Regions from separate parts of the Homo sapiens genome. Here region 1 is linked to region 2. The links come from fine-mapping of genetic effects on gene expression. Tissue or cell type: whole blood. Region 2 holds a variant in brackets; the other region holds the start of a gene. All regions are shown on one strand. Distances are between the middles of the regions.

Region 1 (2,500 bases), 170 kb after region 2:
AAATACCCTCTAAGCAGCAGTCCCAATATCCATGCGCTACAGCTCATATCTACCCCGCTGAAGAATCCTTCCAGCACAAACTATGTACTTATTTTATGCAGTTCTAATAAGTTACTTAATAACATCTTTGAGGGTTTTCTATGTGTTTTGTGTTAAACATTTTTCTTGCATCTTCATATTCCAGCCCTGTGAGGTAACATGTCCAAGTTTTTCCATCTAGGAATTACTTCAATTCAAATTCCATTATATGTGATTCCACAATGGGTGTTATCACTACGCCATTAATTCTCAAACTTTAGCGTCCAGGTGCATTGGTATCAACTGGAAGGCTTGTTAAAATATATTTCTGATTCAGTAAGTTTGGGATAAGACCCCAAAATGTGCATTTCCAAGAAGTTCCCAAGTGATGCTGATCCTAGCGTCCTGGGATTATTTAGAAACCAATGCACTTCTATTCTTCTTTGAAAGAATACTTGCTTTCCACAGCGACGGCAGGCCTGCAGCAAACCAGAAGCCTTTAAAGTTTATTAGAACTACCTCAAAAAGACACACAACTGTGAGAAATTAGATAAAGCCTTCTAATAAGCAATTTCAAAGAGAAAAAAGAAAAGCCTGGGAGTCACTGAGTGTACTGCAGAGACCCAAACACCTCGATAATTGAATCATAACTAGGCAGGCACTCATTCATTTTGACAGTAACGCTGAGTCTTCAAAAGAGTTTATGCTCAGTTTAGAAAAACAAATAAGGCTGTGATCCGTTTCTTGTAAACGTTTATCCAAAGGTTTTTAGGGGTTGGACAGAAAGGGTTTACTTTGGCGGATTTTTTGTCCTCTAATAAAAGTTATTACTGCGGTGAGGCTTAGACTTGTTCTGAGAAACTGAAAGCTGTCCCGAGAGCACCTGAAACTGCATGCTCTGTTGCTGATGCAACGTCACTTCAAACTTCCTGCTTTCAAAAGGAACCCTTTAAACTCGCTCAGCGCCAACCCCTTCCTCCGAGTGTGGGCACGTCGTTCCCGTGCGGTCCGGCGGAGATGCGGCAACTTCGACAAGACCCCAGGTGGAGTTACCCCAGGAAACGCCCTCCCCGCTCTCGGACTTGCCCCGGACGGGGAGGCTGTGCCTCCAGCCCCGCCATGCCTCCCTCGCCCTAGCCCCCCGGGAGGCGCCGACCTCCGCCCAGCAGCCCCAGCCCGGCCGCCAGCTCCCGCAGCCCGGGGAAACGGCGAGAGATGCCGCTCACAACCAACGACAGCAGCCGGACCAAACAGACGCGGAAACTCACGCTCTCTACGACCCGCCTGCGTCCCCACGTCTTCGCGCGCACGTGCGTCATCACGCACGTTCCCGATCCGGGGCGCCCCGGGTTCCTGGGGCCGGGTGCGGGAGGGGAGGGCCTTAAAGCGGACGGCTCGGCCGCGGCGCATGCTTAGTTGTGCGCGCCCGCGCTCTGCTGTCTGCAGACCGCGTGCGCCGGCAGTGGCTCTAAGGGGGCCGCGAGGGCACAGCGGGGCAGGACCGCGGCAGAGCGCAGTAAGGAGAGTGTGGACCCTCGCCCTGTCCTCTAAGCTCCATGTGAAATGTGGATAATATTCCTTACTGCCATAAATAGCCACTGGCCGCTGACTACGCGTAAGGCAAACAAGCGACCTGCGTTCAAGGGACCCGAAGACTAGGGGAGAAGCAGCGAGCGGGTCGCGGCCGCCTACCCAACGGACGCCTCTGCCCAGGTTCTCTGCCGGGAAGCTTCGTCCTTCCGGGCCCCAGCGCAGCCGGAGGCTGGGGAGCTGCTGCCTGGAAGGGTCAGATACCGCCTGTTAGGCGGAGGGTGGGAAAGACACTCTCCTGCTTCAGGAGCTATCGCAGACAACCGGAGGGCGGCTTATCGCAGAGTCCCAGAGCCAGCCAGCAAGGCAAGGTCGCGGGTGCACCTTTCACTCCCAGAAGCTTGGGTCTGGGACTGCACCACGCAACGTTTGCCCATTTTGAGGGCTTTAGGTGTTTCATATTTCAGTTAATAGAATTTCGATTAATACATAATTTGATACCATTTTAATTGTTTGCTACTCGGGAGCAAGTTTTATGTTTAGCTGTAGGAGTTAGGCTAAGTTAAATGTTGCAATGCTATATATATTTAATAGGATATGAAAAAACTATCTTACAGCCGGGCGCGGTAACTCACGCCTGTAATCCCCGCACTTTGGGAGGTCGAGGCAGGAGGATCGCTTGAGCTCAGGAGTTTGAGACCAGCCTGGACAACATAGTGAGACCTTGTCTCTATTTAAAAAACAACAACAGGCCTGGCGCGGTGGCCCACGCCTGTAATCCCAGCACTTTGGGAGGCTAAGGCGGGCGGATCACCGGAGGTCAGGAATTCAAAACCAGCCTGGCCAACATGGCGAAACCCTGTCTCTACTAAAAATACAAAAATTAGCCAGGCATGGTTGCGGGCGCCTGTAATCCCGGCTACTCGGGAGGCTGAGGCAGGGGAATCCTTGA
Region 2 (2,842 bases):
ATGGTGCTTAAATATTTAATGATTCATGGGAAAAATGTGAAATGTGTCTAATAAATTGCATCCCTTTCTCTAACCTCTGGTTGTAAAGTTAAAGACTTTCAGCATGTAACTTTTGCAAGATGCCTGGTCTGCCATTGGCACTTAAATATTTGTTGTATTACGATTTATAATATGGTTCATTATATATAAAATTCTGTGATGACTTCCAAAAACAACTGTGTTTTATCTGGTGCATTTATTTTCTTTCAAGCCAATGCGGGTTTACTTTTTTCTTCTAGCTTACATTGTAATGTGGCTCACACTTGTGGAAGTGTGAACTGCAGAAGGGAAGAGTGTAGGCTGGAAAGGATGAGATTCAGAGGCTCTTGGAAACACTGTTCTATGCACAGTGATGGCGCGCAGAAGAGAAATGAAAGCAGGCCTCAGGGGGAAGGTCTGTATCAACCCCACGGGAGCTGCTTGGGCAGTGGTCAGTGGGCATGGGGCTTACACCCTCTTGGCCTCAGCTGTCTCATTAGTTGAGTGAGAATAAGACCATTTGCTTCACAGCATTGTTGGGAGGATTCAAGGTGTGAAAGTTAACTACAAAGAGATTTATGAAACCAAAGATATTGTTACTTTTAACCACTGTGACTTGAAGTCAGGAGTTAGTTAGGTATTGATTACATTTCTCTTTATAGCCAAACAACATGGGGGTAGGTGGAGTGCAGATATTCAATAACTGCTTTGTGGCCTTTTTTTTTTTTTTTTTTTTTTTGAGACAGGGTCTTGCCTGTTGCCCAGGCTGGAGTTCAGTGGTACAATCATGGCTCACTGGAGCCTTGAACTCGCAGGCTCGAATGATCCTCCTGCCTCACCCTCCCCAGTAGGTGGGCTACAAGCATGTGCTACTGTGCCTGGTTAATTTTTAATTTTTATAGAAGCAGGGTCCTGCTCTGCTGCCCAGGCTCGTCTTAAACTCTTGGCTTCAAATCATCCTCCTGCCTCAGCCTTCCAAAGCATTGGGATTACAGGCATGAGCCACTGCACCCAGCCTTGGACTTACTTTTAAGTAGGAAGGAACTTCATTGGTATTTGGGCCAACCTTTTACCTGATAGAGAAATAAGGGTACTCAACTAACAAACATTCCCTGAC[C/T]GTCTACTATGTCACAGCAGCAGTATTGGCTCTGCTATATATGCTTCCTCTCAACCCTACAGCTGTCCTATTTTGCAGACAAGGAAACTGAGCTTTAGAGAGAATAACTACTTTAAGGTCATACAGTCACCATCTAGTAGAATCCAAACCCTCGTCTGTCTGTTCTAAAGATAATACTTTTATCCTTTACTCCATTACCTCCCAGCGGCTTTCCCCATTCGTGAATTGGTTAGAAAATAGAGGGTCTCACATAGAGGTGTCCTGGATTGCTCCTGTCACTGCAAAGCCCCTTGTTTTACGGGTTCTAAGGTAGCCCATCCAGCTCAGCTTGGAGACTGTCTCAAGCTGTTCTGGAGGGAGGGGGTGAGGAACCCATGAGGACAGAGCTATTTTGGGGGAATCCCACAGGCCTTTATCTCAGGGTCAACTGAAAACCAGCCATGTCCAAGGTGGGCGGATCATGAGGTCAGGAGATCAAGACCATCCTGGCTAACATGTGAAACCCCATCTCTACTAAAAATACAAAAAATTAGCTGGGCCAGGTGGTGGGCACCTGTAGTCCCAGCTACTTGGGAGGCTGAGGCAGGAGAATGGCATCAACCTGGGAGGTGGAGTTTGCAGTGAGCTAAGATCGTACCACTGCACTCCAGCCTGGGCAACAGAGCGAGACTCTGTCTCAAAAAAAAAAAAGAAAAAAGAAAAGAAATGAAAACCAGCCGTGTCTCCTGTATTAGTCCATTTTCATGCTGCTGATAAATTTTCATACCTGAGACTGGGCAATTTACAAAAGAAAGAGGTTTATTGGACTTACAATTCCACGTGCCTGGGGAGGCCTCACAATCATGGCGAAGGTGAAAGGCACGTCTCACATGGTGGCTGACAAGAGAAGAGAGCTTGTGCAGGGAAGCTCCCCTTTTCAAAACCATCAGATCTCGTGAGACATATTCACTATCACAAGAACAGCATGGGAAAGACGTTCCCCCATGATTCCATGAGACCTCCCACCGAGTCCCCTCCCATGACACGTGGGAATTCAAGATGAGATTTGGGTGGGGACACAGCCAAACCATATTACCTCTGGAGCCCCTAGAAACCCAAGGTCAGTCATTTAGGGCAACTGCTCTGAGCTGGAGAAAGGAGGATCTGAAGGCCCTTACTTGATGCTCAGTCACTGCAGCACCAGCCAACTTAGTCATTTTTGTTCTCCCATTTGCCAGCAAGGCAATTCCTTCATACATTATCTCTAGGGGGTAGCTTGCATCCTCAGTGATTATATACTTAGTGGTTATAATTTTATCAGCCACAGATGAAATTCTCAACCTGTAATCATTTTTATGTTTGATAAAAGTAGGGAAAATTGTATAATGAGGAGTAAGATGTTCTTCTGGTCCCCAAGCAGTCAGTCTGCTTTACATGCAATAAATGGTGTAAAATGCACTTGTGCGCACTGAAATTTGAGAAGTACTTTGGTGCCTATAAACCACAGGGGACCTGTTAAAATGTAGATTCTGATCATTTGGTCTGGGGAGCAGGAGTCTGAATCTGTAGAAGCTTCCAGGTGCTGTGGGCCCTGGGTGCACACCCTGAAGAGCAGAGAGGTTGGCCTTGGTGCTCCTCTATAACGAGAGTCTGAAGACCTTGTTCAATTCCATTAATAATTATCTGCTACTAAGGATATGCAAGATAGATTTAAATTGTTGAGGGAGA

Evidence for each region. PIP is the estimated chance that this variant, and not a neighbour inherited with it, causes the effect.
Region 1: RHBDD1 starts here. The variant in region 2 is fine-mapped to the expression of RHBDD1 in whole blood (TOPMed, PIP above 0.99).

What each region holds. Positions count from the first base shown.
Region 1 is chr2:226,834,874-226,837,373 of GRCh38, reverse strand. RHBDD1 (rhomboid domain containing 1) reads right to left here and starts at 1,320. Exons shown (of 9, transcript NM_001167608.3): 1 at 1,287-1,320. RefSeq lists enhancers at 808-957, 1,798-1,867, 1,707-2,001 and a silencer at 1,008-1,537.
Region 2 is chr2:227,000,084-227,002,925 of GRCh38, reverse strand. It overlaps COL4A4 (collagen type IV alpha 4 chain), which reads left to right. Exons shown (of 48, transcript NM_000092.5): 48 at 1-212. Among named protein-coding and RNA genes, the nearest start is that of COL4A4, 160 kb to the left of the region's middle. The variant C/T (reference allele first, on the strand shown) is at 1,136.